4 linked regions of the Homo sapiens genome follow. The protein of the gene in region 1 purifies or fractionates together with the protein of each later gene. This does not show direct contact. Each region holds a gene or a part of one and is shown in the gene's direction. Other genes may lie near its edges.

Region 1 (3,797 bases):
GATTTGTTATGACCTGCTTTATGTTTACTCTGTGGGAAATTCTCGTTCATTCTTACAGTATTATTAGCATATTCCGTGATAGTTTACAAAGCATTTAACGTCATTTTTAAATTTAGCCTCCTTTGAAACTGTGAATTAGGTGGTGGTGTCTCCATTTTGCAGGTATGAAAACTGAGGCTTGAGGTATGGTCCCATACACCTAGAAGGTGGTGGAGCTGGGACTTGAACACCAAGCTCTTGACAGAAGAAAACCTTCTTAGTGGGTATCTTGTGAACATGCACACTTCCTTCTTGGGACTGTGCCCTTTGTTCATTATGTGAATGCTTATAAAGTTCTTTCCTTCCAGGTTTTGGAGATCATATTCATTGGAGGACACTGGAAGATGGGAAGAAAGAAGCAGCTGCCAGGTACAAGACATGGTTTTAGGTCATTTATGGTGGTAAAACACTTTTCAGCTATCAACTTAACGTTAATTTCAGGTGAAGGGCTATACCAAGGCAGAGCAAGAACTGAATAGTTGCCTAATTACAACAACAGCAATAATAATGGCTAACATTTATAGTTGAGCCTTGAACAACATGGGTTTTTTTTCTTTTTTTTTTTTTCTTTTTGAGATGGAGTCTCACTCTCTCGCCCAGGCTGGAGTGCAGTGGCACGATCTCGGCTCACTGCAAGCTCCACCTCCTGGGCTCACGCCATTCTCCTGCCTCAGCCTCCCGAGTAGCTGGGACTACAGGCACCCGCCACCACGCCTGGCTAATTTTTTTGTATTTTTAGTAGAGACGGGGTTTCACCGTGTTAGCCAGGATGGTCTCAATCTCCTGATCTCATGATCCACCCGCCTCGGCCTCCCAAAGTGCTGGGATTACAGGCGTGAGCCACCGCGCCCGGCCTTTTTTTTTCTTTTTTGAGACAGAGTCTTGCTTTGTCACCCAGGCGGGAGTGCAGTGGTGCGATCTTCATTCATTGCAACCTCCACCTCCCAGGTTCAAGCAATTCTTGTCAAGCCTCAGCCTCCCACGTAGCTGAGATTACAGGCATGTGCCACCATTGCCGGCTAATTTTTGTAGTTTTTAGTAGAGACGGGGTTTCACCATGTTGGCCAGGCTGGTCTTGAGCTCCCAACCTCAGGCGATCCACCTGCCTCGGCCTCCCAAAGTGCTGGGATTACAGATGTGAGCCACCACGCCCGGCCAAACAACATGGGTTTGAACTGCACAGGTCCACTTATATGTGGATTTTTTTCAGTAATAAATGCATTGGAAACTGTTTTGGAGATTTCAAGCAGTTTCAAAAAACTTGCAGATGAACAGCATAGCCTAGAAATATCAAAAAACTTAAAAAATTGGTATGTTACAAGTGTAAAAATATATGTAGGTATTAGTCTATATTATCATTTACTACCATAAAACATACAGAAATCTACAAGTTAAAATTTATCAAAACTTCTGCACACTGGCTGGGTGCGGTGGCTCATGCCTGTAATCCCAGCACTTTGGTAGGTTGAGGCGGGCAGATCACTTGAGCCCAGGAGGTTGAGACCAATCTGGGCAACATGGTGAAACCCCTTCTCTACAAAAAATACCAGTTACTTGAGGGGGCTGAGGTGGGAGGATCAATTGAGCCTGGGAGTTTGAGGCTGCAGTGAGCTAAGACCATGCCACTGTACTGCAGCCTGGAAACAGAGTGAGACCCTGTCTAAAAAGCTTCTGGCCAGGCATGGTGGCTCACGCTTGTAATCTCAGCACTTTGGGAGGCTGAGGCGGGCAGATTACCTGAGGTCGGGAGTTCAAGACCACCCTGGCCAACATGGTAAAACCCCGTCTCTACTAAAAATACAAAAATTACCTGGGCATGGTGGTGTGCACCTGTAGTCTCAGCTACTAGGGGAGGCTGAAGCAAGAGAATCACTTGAACCCGGGAGGTGGAGGTTGCAGTGCGCTGAGATTGCACCACTGTACTCCAGCCTGGGAGACAAAGCGAGACTCTGTCTTAAAAAACAAAAATAAAAAATAAAAATAAAAATAAAAAAATAAAAAACTTCTGCACACAAACACCTATAGACCACACATGCTGCCATTTGCAGAAGGGAGAAATGTAAACAAATGTAAAGATGCCATATTAAATCATAACTGCATAAAAATTAACTGTAGTATATAACATTACTAATAATTTTGTGGCCACCTCCTGTTGCTATGGAGGTGAACTCAAGTATTGTGAGTATCCACTTAAAATGCCGTGCAACATTAATCATCTTCAGTGAGCAGTACGTCTCTCCAGTGTATTGCGTATCGCAGTATAACGTAGTTTCTCAGCTGGGCGCGGTGGCTCACACCTGTAATCCCAGCACTTTAGGAGGCCGAGGTGGGTGGATCACTTGAGGTCAGGAGTTCGAGACCAGCCTAGCCAACATGGTGAAACCCTGTCTCTACTAAAAATACAAAAAACTTAGCTGGGCATGGTGGGCGCATGCCTGTAATCCCAGCTACTTGGGAGGCTGAGGCAGGAGAATCGCTTGAACCTGGGAGACGGAGTTGCAGTAAGCCAAGATCACGCCATTGCACTCCAGCCTGGGAGACAGAGCGAGACTTGGTCTCAAAAAAAAAAAAATTAATCTCTTACAACTCTTGCATATTTTTCCTGGTATTTAGTACAATATCATAAACCTAGAATAACACCATGAAACCCATACAAGGTGCCATTGGTGATGCTGGAAGTGTTCCCAAGAAGCAGAGAATGCTCATGACATTACAAGAAAAAATTGAATTGCTTGATATGTACTGTAGACTGAGGTCTACACAGGTAGTTGCTTGTCGTTTCAAGATAAATGAACCCTTTTTTTTTTTTTTTTTTTTGAGACGGTGTCTTGCTCTGGCCTGGCCAGATGAATCCATTTTGAGAGTCTGAGGCAGGAGGACTGATTGAGCCCAGTAGATTGAGACCAGCCTGGGCAACAAAGTAAGACCCTGTCTCTACAAAAAAAAATTTTTTTAAAGATAAATCCAGCGTAAGGACCAATTGCGTAAAAAAAAAAAAAAAACAGAAAAAGAAAAAAAAAAGAAAATTCATGAAGTTGTCACTGTAGCTATGCCAACAGGTGCAAAAACCTTGCACTTTTTGCCAAATGCCTTTTTATGTGCATAATATGTAGCTTTTACATGGGTACTATAAAAAGGCATACCTATTGACTCTAATATGATTTGAGAAAAAGCAAAGTCATTATATGGCAACTTAAAGCAAAAAGAAGGTGAAGGATCTAAAGCTGGAGTATTTAATGACAACAAATGATGGTTTGCTGATTTTAGAAAGAGGTTTGGCTTAAAAAATGTCAAGACAGGCTGGGCGCAGTGTTGCCCGTAATCCCAGCACTTTGGCAGTCCAAGGCGGGTGGATCATTTGAGGTCAAGAGTTTATGACCAGCCTGGCCAACATGGTGAAACCCCGTCTCTACAAAAAATACAAAAACTAGCTAGGTGGTAGTGGTCCATGCCTATAATCCCAGCTACTTGGGAGGCTGAGGCAGGAGAATCGCTTGAGCCTGGGAGGCGGAGGTTGCATGAGCCGAGATCCCCCCACTGCACTCCAGCCTGGGTGACAGAGTGAGACCCTGTCTCAAAAAAAAAAAAAACAAGATACAGGAGAAGCAGCTTATGCTGACCAAGAGGCAGCAGATGAATTCTCAGACACCGTTAAGAAAATCATTGAAGAGAAAGGATATCTGCCTGAACAGGTGTTTAATGCAGATTAAGGTACCCTACTCTGGAAAAAAAAAGCCACAAAGGACATTAATAGTAAG
Region 2 (3,266 bases), on another chromosome or scaffold:
GACAGAGCAAGACTCAGTCTCTAAACCCCCCTCCCCCACCACTCTTAAAAAAAAAAAAAGCATTATTTGCTCTTTTCTGCTTCGCTGTCATCCTTGTTTCCAGAAGGGACTGGGTCACTACTGAGGGGAGGAGAGGAAGCTCAGATGGCGGCAAACTGAAGGGAAGCCGACTCTGAGTCAGGCCTAGGTGCACGGCCTGCCATGCTGCGTGCTGTGGGGAGCTGAGAGCGCATGGGCACCTAAGCACCCAGATTAGGCTGCGGCTACAGAAGATCTGACTGTCTGGCCTGGCCTGCAGAGGGACTGTGGCCTCAGAGGAGGATGCTGGCCCAGTGTGGGAGCTGCTGCAGGGTGGTGGGTCCCGTCTGCTCATGGAAGACAGAATCCTTGCCCCTTGACCAGTCAGTGGGGACTAGAATTATGGCAGTTTGTACCACAAGAGATGCGTGGTGGCTATTGTCTGCTTTGTGCCTTTTTCACTAGTCACTGCTGGGCTGAGGTGGCCAATCATCACCCACCACGTGTTCCTGACTGCGCTCCTCCTTGGCTCAGGGCAACCCTGACTCCATCTTTGTTCAGCCAAGTGTGACAAGCTGACAGAGTTCCCAGCATGACACCGCTGTAACCCTCACCACCACCAGGCAAGAATGAGCAAAGATCTCATTCTCTGAGGAAGAACTCCCCGGAAACTCATAAGGAGGGCCGTCCTATCCCTGCAGGGTATGGGGAGAATTTTGTGGTATTAGCATAGAAAGGGAGCTGGAGGTACCTCTGGAAGAGCGGGGGTCCACGGCATCTCAGACACAGGAGTCTCTGCTTGTTCAGGGTGACAGATGGTGAAACAAATGACCTAATGGGTCCCTAGACACCCGGTTGCATCTTTTCTCCAGGAATCCAGTTTCCCTTTGCAGGGTATTTGACTACACTTGATAAGAGGCCAGGGAAGGACCAGGATTGAGGCTGGGTGTTCTGTTGGCTGAACCCTTGTCTGGAGTCACCCTAAAAGTGATGGCAGGGGAGTTCCCACACGGGACTGCCCCAAACCTTTCCAAGATGAGAGCCAGTTGGGATTCCAAAGGAAGAAACACTTAATGCCAGGGTGGTCAGTCCAAAGCATTTGTTAGGGAGCTTATATACAGAGGGGGCTGCAGCGTGCCCTCACGAGGGACAGCCAGGAAAGAGGTTGTGCCTAGGCACACCGCACTGAGGGGGTGGGGTGTGGAGTTTCTATGAGGGTGCAAGGAATTTGGCTGGGGTGGGACCAGTTTCCACGTGCTTAGCAACACGTCAGATCTTTCAGTGTTCCAGGCAACAACCTAAACGTGTATCAGTGTCTGGGAACATGCAAGCCCCAGCCAGGGTTTGAGCCTGCAGGGGGAACATGTAGCTGATTAGGTCAGAGTGGTCAAGGCACTCCCTCAGTCAGGACAAAGGAAATGCTGGGGGGATGAAATGGGGGACCCAACACTGAGTCAGGCAGGGGACACACGCCCTGTTTAGAGCCCACGGGTCAGACCCCACCAGGCCAGAGCAGGGGAGAGCCCTGGCCAAGGCACTCCGCATGGGGGGCTGTGACCCCACGGGCAAGCCTGCTACCCGGGCACGTTTGTACCTTGGAGGGTCCTCTCAGTCTTGCCGATGCTGTCAACACCCTGAGCCCAGGGAAATGCATCCCATTAAAATAAAGCTCTGGCCCGAGTGTGGTTGCAGATTTTTCTTGGCTATCTTAAAGAGTAAAGTAAGCAAATTACAAATCAAAGAAACTCTGAACCTGTGGTCTTCATCCGAGAGAGCCTCTGGTGTTCAGAAGGAAAGTCTCAAGCGTTCAGACTGTGGCAGGAACCCTGTCATGGAATCTGGCAGCTAAACCCGAAAGCAAGAGGCTTGACCACTGCAGAACACTCGGGTAGGTAGGAAACAATGAAAGAGCTTCCAAAATCAAAATCAGAAACCCAATTCCAGGACTTGGTGACTGCAGTACTTCCTGCCTGTCACCATCTGGGGCAGCTCAGATGTGCAGTCCAGCGTGAACACACCTTGAGGATGAGGCAGCGCGTCCCTGCTGCTGCTGCTGCCGCTGATGGCACGATCAGGGCAGACTAGGTTTGCTGACCAGGCTAGGTGTGGACCACCACACCTACCTTTCCCTAAATGGGCCCGTGGCATGTGTCCTTTCAAAATGTTCCCTTGGCAGTGTGCTCCTTGCGTGGCTTCGCTCCTAGGACACATCCTAAAGGGTCCCCTGCACACTGCCAAGGGCTTCTGGGGCGTGACCTGTCTTTAGTGGTTCTGAGTCTCAGGACTTGGGGCTGATGCAGGGCCTCTAGCTGAAGCGACTTTGATGGAAATGTGTAGACACAAATGTTGCCCAAGGAGCACGAGTACAGCAGGTGCTGCATTTATGGGGCGCGTCCATTCCTAATCATTGTGCTTTGTGTCTCCTTAGGGAGAGACAAAGGCAGCGCTGCCCTCGGGGGAGTATTGGCCCTGGCGGAACGCAGCAACCACGAGGGATCCAGCCAGAGGATGCCACGCCAGCCCAGCGCTACCAGGCTGCCCAAGGGGGGCGGGCCTGGGAAGAGCCCTACGCAGGGCAGCACCTAGGATGGGGCAGAGACTTGTCACATCTTTGTCCCCAGCAAAGGCTACATGTTACCTCCTTCAGTTGATAATAAACCTTTCTGAGATGCAGAGGGTCCAGGTCAGATGCTCTCTACTGTTTTTTTTTTTTTTTTATATTAAGGCACACTTAGAATGAAGTTTCTGTGCCGGTCCTGGTTGTGCCACAGTGAACTAACCAGGTCCCTTCACCATGGGTCAACTTCCTGAACCTGATTTGGGTTCTGAGGAAAGGTGTCTGGATTGCCAGGTCTTTTATAAATAGACATCAACAAGCTTCACTTGGAGTGAAATGTGGGAGGTTTTTTGTTTGTTTGTTTGTTTGTTTTCTGAAACGGAGTCTTGCTCTGTTACCCAAGCTGGAGTGCAGTAGTGCGATCTTGGCTCACTACAAGCTCCGCCTCCTGGGTTCGCGCCATTCTCCTGCCTCAGCCTCCCAAGTAGCTGGGCCTACAGTGCCCACCACCACACCCGGCTAGTTTTGTTGTATTTTTAGTAGAGACGGGGTTTCACCATGTTAGCTAGGATGGTCTCGATCTCCCACCTCATGGGAGGTTTTCTACCAAGACAGTTGACAGTGCTGAGGGACAGGGTTGCTGTGTGTACGCACAGAGGGCGAACGCTGCCTTCCAGGTTACTGTGGAGCA
Region 3 (3,797 bases), on another chromosome or scaffold:
ATACAGTAAGTGTTGGAATAGGTATAGCTGTTTTAAAATGATAAAGTGGCAGTGTGCCAAAATAAGAAATAACAGAAAAAATATTGCTAATGGTAGCCTATTCTTTGGGATGCAAAGGCTTTGTTTGGAGAAGAGCCAGGACTTATTGCACTTATTGTGTTTATTGCATTCAGAATGTCGCATGAGCGTTCAGCCTGTGGGAAGTGCTGAGGCTTTCCCTCGTTCTCTTCCTTTTCCCCATTTGCCGCCTGCCCCACCCTCAGTAATTTCATGATGTTTTGTGTATGGCTAACTTATATTTATAGCTCTCCAGTTTTGGCTGTATTTGCTATTTATATTGTCATGGTTCATTCAAAAGATTTACTTTGCGTAGGACACTGTGGTAGCTACAGGAAAGAGACAATGACTTCACCATGACTGTTCCTTTCATGAGCTTATTAGTCTGGTCTTGGAGAGGAGATGTGTAGTAAAATAACCAGTAGTCAGTAATAAAGGTGAAAGTGATCAGGGACGTGAGATGTGCAGGTGAAGCGCTTTGGGTATTTTCAGGCAAGGCTCAACAGGAAGGCTTTGGAAAGAGGCAGGAATTGCACTGGCCATGGAGAAGGAGGAGAATTTGGTTGTGGGTTATTGCGCAGCCCAGGACAAAGGAATAATGTGCATGGAAGTGCAGAAGAGAAATAGGACGAATTAGACTTATCTAAAGATTGTAGTGAAAATAAAAAGTTATTATTTAATAATGTGACAGACTAAAGAGAGACAGACTAGGACCTCATGTAGGAAGCAGGATAGGTTACTGGGTATGGTTTTAGCTACAGGTGTTACTGGAATGACAGATGTTCTCTTAACAGGACTTGGCTCTCTGGACAGGAGGGCTGGGGATCAGGAAGAGTCAGTGATGGCACTAGAACTCTGAGCTCGTGAGGCCAAGTCGGAAGGGCAGCAGGGGATTTCGGGAGAGCATAGCACTGAGAGAGGAATGTCATTTCGGGCAATTTGGTTTTCAGTAGCTGAGAGGACTTACTAGTGGAAGCTTCCAGCATGTATTGGAAATGCTATACTGAAACTCTGGTTAAAAGTCAGGGCCGAATATAGAGATTTTGGAAGCACTTATCTCACCATGGTAACTCAGGACAAGGCAGGATGGTGTAGCAAGAGCTCCCGTGTGGTCCAGGGGAGACACCCTTTCCAGGCATGTGAGAGCCATGGGCCCTCTCACCCTAAAGCATTCAGACATAATTTTACATGTATTTTTTTGTGGGGGGGTACATAGACCCCAGATTGTTCCTGGAATAGAGATAGATGTGATCCAATATAGATTTTGGGGAAATGCTTCTACACTGAAGAGGTGGAAGGAAGAAGAACCAGGAGAGCAGTTGTGTTCGAGTTGTGACCTTTCATAGTTCCTAGAGAAGGCGGCGCACACATGGGCTGTGCCTGGGACAGGGCGTCCCCATGCGCCTGCTGTGCCGGAGGCTCTCCATGAAGGTTGCTGCTGCTTGTGTGAGCACCGCGTCTGCTGTGCTGCTGGCGGCCCCTGTACCCACCGCCCCACATCTGCAGATTCAATCAACTGAGGATCAAAAACACTTAAAAAAAGGCAGCCACTAAAAAAATACACAAAAAACCAAGACAATTTAACAGCTATTTGCATAGCATGTACATTGCGCTAGATATTATAAGTAATTTAGAGATGATTTACCGTATATGGGAAGATGTGTGTAGGTTAGGTGCAAATATTGCTTCATTTTGTAGAAGAGACTTGAGCATCAGGGAATTTTGGTGTCTGTGGGGGTCGTGGGATTGGTCCCCTGCAGATGCTGAGGGTGACGGGGCGCTGCTGCTGCTGACGCTGCTGCTTCTCTGTGACGACTCCTGTGGTCCCCGTCGTCCTGTCCATGGCTGCCAGGGTCTGCGGAGAGCAAAGTTTCTGCTGTTGAGTATTTATAGTATAACTGGGAAGACAGAAGATGCAAATCCTAAAAGACTCCTAGTAATGGTCAAAAAACAGGAGAACATGTCAAATTCATTTTTATCTGTGAAAAAGTTATGAAGATTTAAAAGTGTGAATAAAGAATAAATAGTGAAAATTTAAAAACTGAGCACGAGAGATGCCTCAACCCTGAAGGAGCAAAGAGAGTTCCGAGGAGGCTCTGGGTTCTGTGTCTTCATAGGCTGCTTTGGGCTAAGACTGATTCAAACCTTCTCTTTGGAATGAAAATTTTTAATGACTCAAACAAGGGTGTAATGAAAACATTTCTAGAGAAAAATCTTTATGTCATTAAAACTACGTAGATCAATGGAAATAGAACCCCATGCCCTTAAAACAGGACTGTGGTGAGCTCATCAAGGGGTTCCGTGGTGTCGTGACTCCAGGCAGACCTCACTCATCCTCAGATAACTACAGTTTCTTCACTGGGAGCATCTTAGTTGTTTGCTACTAGTGTGAAATTGGAATAATAGCAACACTAAAATAGGCCTGTCTTAACTGCTTTCTTATTCGGAAGGACAAACAAATCTTAAGAGTCTTCTGGTATATTTAAACTGGGTAACTCAGATAGTGGAAAGAGACTTAAACTCTGAATCAGAAGATCTCGCCTTTCTTGTCCTTGCTTAGTCTTCAGCTAGCGTTTTGCCTCCTTCTCTCAGTCTGAGGTTGTTCCTCCCACTGGGGTTATTGTCTAGCTTAAGTATTATTGTGGGTTTAATGAAATGAAGTATTCATATAAGTTTTAAAAATGGTTTTGTGCTTTGCAGATGTAAATCAGCACTGTAAGAAGCTCTGTTATGTGTATAGTCTCCACCTGCAATTTCTTCTCAATAGAAAGCTATGGAAATGCTTTCTTCCGCTATGTTACTGCTTAGAGTCAGGCGTCTTTATTGGTGACAATCTGGTTTTGTCCCCTAGACATCTCCACCAATCTCCGTAGAGTTCACTCTATGGTGCATGATACTACTACTCAACTTTTGCGAGTTGTACAATTCACAAAGCTTATTTGCATGTGCTGTTTTGGTCTTAAGACTAATTTATGGAAACATCTTATGGGTATGGACGGGTGACTCAGCACTGACTTGCCCTATTACCAGTGTGTTTTGGTGAGATTTACGGTTAGTTACAGTGTATTAAGGGATTTGGAAATCATGAAGACACACATGTAGGTGTCTGCTGTGAACCCAGCTGGCAGAATTGTTTTCATGTGTGTGGTCTTAGGGCTCTGGTCTCCTTTGTGGAATGTCCAGCTGTCTGTGCCTGCGGTCAGTCTGTTACTGATGCCACAGGCAGTGGTTGGCCCTGAGTCTGGATGTATGTGCCTTCATTTCTCCTCTGTGGAAATACAAATTACATATGCATGTGTGCTCTTCCCTGTTGTTCTTTACAGCTGCAGACCTATTCACAGACTTGGAAAATGCATTTCAGGGGAAGATTGATGCTGCTTATTTTGAGACCAGCAAATACCTGTTGGATGTTCTCAATAAAAAGTACAGCTTGCTGGACCACATGCAGGCAATGAGGCGGTACCTGCTTCTTGGTCAAGGAGACTTTATAAGGCACTTAATGGACTTGCTAAAGTAAGGCACTATTTTGATTTCTATAAATAAGTAATATATTTGACATGATAAGGAATCTTGTATTTAAAAGAATAAATTATATTAAAAGAAAATGAGTTGAATTCTTCGAGCATACTTTTTAAAATAAAATCTGAAAAGAATGTAAAATTTTCAAAAGGTAAAGCCCCTTCATTTTTCTCTGGTTATCAGCAGAGCATCATTGTCATGTTCTGTGCTTTATTCATAAG
Region 4 (3,797 bases), on another chromosome or scaffold:
GATGAGAGGAAGGGTTGGTGGTGGGCCACAGCTTCTGGCTTCTTGTGGATGGGCCGCATTTCCACCTGGCCCGGTGGCGGGGTGTGGCTCACAGAGGCCCATTGCTTGGAAATGGAGCCCAGAGCTGAGGCAAGAAACAAAGCGCTGTTCCCAGCACTGGTGCCCCTCAGGCCCTGGGCACGGCTGCGTCCATGTGCCTGGCCGCCCTCCTCCCAGCCTCTTTGCCCACAGGCCTTCACCAGTGGCCTGAGGAGGTACCTGCAGTATTACCGGGCCTGCGTCCTTTCCACTCCGCCCACCCTGAGCCTCCTCACCATTGGTTTTCTCTTCAAGAAACTTGGCCGGCAGCTCAGGTGAGCCTCAGCATGGCGGCTGAGCAGGGGACTTTGCGGGAGCGGTGTGGGGCTTGCTGGGTGGTGGAGGGTTTGCCCTGCTCCCTGGCAAGGAGGGCCTGTGAGAACAGCCCTCAGCAGGCGACCGGATGGCCCTTGGCCGGCCGAGTTCACCAGGTGCCCGGTGCTGAGCGGGTGTGTCTGCCGTGGGCCCACCACAGCTGGCCCCATCCAGGCCCTCCAGGTCCGGTGGCTCCTGCCTAATTGGCACACAGGGTCCCTGGAGATGTGGCGTCCGGTACACACAAGCTGGTTAGTGAGCAACCAGGCTCGGGGGCTATTGGCAGGTGCCATCAGAGAAGGAAGAGTGAGGAGCTGGGCATTGGGAGCAGTGGGAGAGGCGACCTTCCAGGCTGAGGAGCAGAGTGTGGCAGCGCTGAGGAGACCCAAGGGCTGAGACACTGTGGGGCAGGGGAGCTGGGCTGTGAAGGGTGCGAGTTGTGGCAGATGCTTGGTACCACTGTGTGGATGGGAGGGGCTCTCAGGTGCAGCCCCCAGAAGTGGGAGGATCAGGGTGATTCGTGTGTTGGCCAGATCCTGGGAGGGAGGGCCTGCTGGGTGTGGGTACTTCAGTGGGGTGTGTGTGGACAGCGCAGGGGCACAGGGCTGCACACGAGTCCTGCAGGGAGCCCGTTTCTGGGTGGTTGGGGTGCCTGTGGTTTTTAAAGCCTGCATCTAAAGTTAGTTGCCCCAGGGAGCATAAAGATACGTGGAGACTTTGCTCACGATCTGATCCAGGCCTGGGAACCCTGAGCCCGGTCACCTGGTCTCATCCTGCCTCTGGGTCTAGGTACCTGGCCGAGCTCTGTGGCGTTGGCGCTGTGCTCCCGGGCACCTGTGGAGGAGGCCCCAGGGCCGCGTTTCCCACCGTGAGTTGTGCGTCCCTGCCGAGTGTGTCAGCCTGGTGGGCTCCAGGAAACGGGGGTGGCTGAGCGTGTCCCTGGAGGGCTGCTGCCGGCAGGGCTGCGCCTCACTCCCAGCGCTGGGTGCGCTGAGCTGCCCCCCACCCCCTTTGCGGTCTGCAGGGCGTGAAGCTGCTGTCCTACCTCTACCAGGAGGCTCTGCACAACTGCAGCAACGAGCACTACCCTGTACTGCTGTCCCTGCTGAAGACCAGCTGCGAGCCCTACACCCGGTGGGCAGTGGGCTGGGCAGGCGCGGCGGGCGCGCACTCCCACCAGGCAGACACTTGAGAGCGGTCCCTTGTCAGACACCTGCTGAATGTGGGGGTCACACAGGAAGGGGAGGGCAGGATAGGTGGACTGGGCAGGAGCCCCCAACCCCCCACCCTGCCCCCACTCCACACCCCCCACCCTGCCCCCACTCCATCCCGCCCCTCATGGATGGCCACACCCCACTCCACCTCTCACAGCTACGCCCCCACTTGCCCCTCACTGACAGCCACGCCCCTGTCCCACCCCTCACTGACAGCCACGCCCCACCCACCTCTCCGTTGACCACATCTACCCCTGCTTTTCCCCCACTGCAGGTTCATCCACGACTGGGTGTACAGCGGGGTGTTCAGAGACGCTTATGGCGAGTTCATGATTCAGGTGAACCACGAGTACCTCAGCTTCCGAGGTAGGTGGCAGCTGATTGCGGGGCAGGGGTCCGTGCCTGTGGGCCTGGGTTCAGGGCCATGGCCATGCCGGCCACCGTGGTGTTCACCCTACCTTAGATAAGTTGTACTGGACACATGGCTACGTGCTCATCTCCAAAGAGGTGGAGGACTGTGTTCCCGTGTTTCTGAAGCACATTGCCCACGACATATACGTCTGCGGAAAGACCATTAACCTGCTGAAGCTCTGCTGCCCCCGGGTGAGGAGGGGCTCATGTGTGGGGAAGAGAGGGGCCGGTCTTCCCTGGGGCTGAGTATGAGGCTGGGGCTGAGTGCTGGTGGCTGTGCTTGCATCCCCTTTGGCAGCATTACCTCTGTTGGTCCGACGTCCCTGTCCCCCGGATCTCGGTGATTTTCTCCCTTGAGGAGTTGAAGGAGATTGAGAAGGACTGTGCCGTCTACGTTGGGCGCATGGAGAGGGTGGCCCGCCACAGCTCTGTCAGCAAGGAGGAGAAGGTGCGTGGCACCACAGGTCTCGGGGGCTTTCTTCGCCCCTGCCTCTGCTTCCTGGGGTCTCAGGTTGGTGGGGCGGACATGAGGGCTGTGCAAGATGGGGGCCTCCCTTCTGGCATTTTCTGTCCTGGCGGTGGCCTGGGTGGGTGCCAAGGGGGAGTTGAGATGAAGGGTGGGTGTCAACGGGGAGTTGAGATGAAGGGTGGGTGCCAAGGGGGAGCTGAGATGAATGTCCGGAGCCAGATGCCAGGCAGGGGCTCTGACTTCTCCTCCTGGGTCTGGGTGGCTCAGCCTGAAGCCCAGGCTTTGCTGGCGTGGGAAACTCCGTTGGGGCCTCCCCGGGCCCGCCAGCTGTGGACAGACAGTCCTGGCTGCACTCCAGATGGCCTTCGCCCTTTGCAAGCCCCCTTCCTGCTGGGAAGGGACAGTGTGTCAGGGACGGGCCACGCCTCTCCTGTGTCTTCTGGGAGGGGCTCGGTGGTACAATCAGTGCCATTCCCAGGAACACCCTTTCTGGCCTGGTGCCTGGTGGGCAGCAGGGATACTTGGGCAGGGGCAGGCCTAAGAGGCTGAGCGGGGAAGCCCCCTCTTGAGGCCTCTTGGTTTCCTTCCAGGGTGGGCACACACAGCCTTGGGGTCCTCAGCCCCAGATGTCTCTGTGAGAGCCGGTCAGCTCCCGTCCATGGCCTGGAACCAGCCTTGCCACTGCTGAGAGCCTGGGGGTGGGGGAGGGTGGGCGGGGGGGCGGTGTCCTGCCATCACCTGGTCCCTCCTCGAACCCTTGGACCATGTGTCTCCCCTGCCGGCCCTGAGTCCACAGGTGTCCTGGGCATCCTAGGTGAGGGGTCAGAGGATTAGGTTGCTTTTTTTTTCTTTGAGACAGGGTCTCACTGTGTCAGCCAGGAGGCTGGAGTGCAGCGGCTCGAACATGGCTCACTGCAGCCTCCACCTCCCAGGCTCAAGGGATCCTCCTGCCTAAGCTCCCCTGACCCCCGCCAAATAGTTGATACTACAGGCACCTGCCACTACACCTGGCTAATTTTTGTATTTTTAGTAGGGATGGGTTTTTGCTATGTTGTCCAGGCTGGTCTTGAACTCTTAAGCTCATGTGATCTACCCACCTCGGCCTCCCAAAGTGCCAGGATTACAGGCGTGAGCCACTGCGCCCGGCCAGGATGCTTTGATTACCAGTTGTCTTTCTCAGGAATTACGTATGGAAATTGCAAAACAAGAATTAATCGCTCATGCCCGGGAAGCAGCATCCAGGGTCCTGAGTGCACTGAGTGGTGAGTGGCCCCAAGTCCTCCCTTCTGCAGTTCCGGGGGGCCTTGCTG

What was found.
Region 2: the proteins of TXNDC12 (region 1) and MZT2A purify together in Homo sapiens (affinity purification with mass spectrometry; 2 studies listed by BioGRID and IntAct, with this or other methods). This does not show direct contact.
Region 3: the proteins of TXNDC12 (region 1) and TUBGCP3 purify together in Homo sapiens (affinity purification with mass spectrometry; 2 studies listed by BioGRID and IntAct, with this or other methods). This does not show direct contact.
Region 4: the proteins of TXNDC12 (region 1) and TUBGCP6 purify together in Homo sapiens (affinity purification with mass spectrometry; 2 studies listed by BioGRID and IntAct, with this or other methods). This does not show direct contact.

The regions. Positions count from the first base shown.
Region 1 is NC_000001.11:52,038,148-52,041,944, reverse strand, and holds part of TXNDC12 (thioredoxin domain-containing protein 12 precursor), read left to right. Parts: intron 1-347; coding exon 348-408; intron 409-3,797. UniProt on the Homo sapiens protein: Protein-disulfide reductase of the endoplasmic reticulum that promotes disulfide bond formation in client proteins through its thiol-disulfide oxidase activity.
Region 2 is NC_000002.12:131,483,399-131,486,664, reverse strand, and holds the end of MZT2A (mitotic-spindle organizing protein 2A), read left to right. Parts: intron 1-483; coding exon of another isoform or gene 484-563; exon of another isoform or gene 564-641; intron 642-2,446; coding exon 2,447-2,604; 3' UTR 2,605-2,705; downstream 2,706-3,266. UniProt on the Homo sapiens protein: Required for the recruitment and the assembly of the gamma-tubulin ring complex (gTuRC) at the centrosome.
Region 3 is NC_000013.11:112,522,093-112,525,889, reverse strand, and holds part of TUBGCP3 (gamma-tubulin complex component 3), read left to right. Parts: intron 1-3,380; coding exon 3,381-3,570; intron 3,571-3,797. UniProt on the Homo sapiens protein: Component of the gamma-tubulin ring complex (gTuRC) which mediates microtubule nucleation.
Region 4 is NC_000022.11:50,224,463-50,228,259, reverse strand, and holds part of TUBGCP6 (gamma-tubulin complex component 6), read left to right. Parts: intron 1-231; coding exon 232-353; intron 354-1,182; coding exon 1,183-1,261; intron 1,262-1,417; coding exon 1,418-1,527; intron 1,528-1,881; coding exon 1,882-1,973; intron 1,974-2,070; coding exon 2,071-2,210; intron 2,211-2,316; coding exon 2,317-2,466; intron 2,467-3,667; coding exon 3,668-3,749; intron 3,750-3,797. UniProt on the Homo sapiens protein: Component of the gamma-tubulin ring complex (gTuRC) which mediates microtubule nucleation.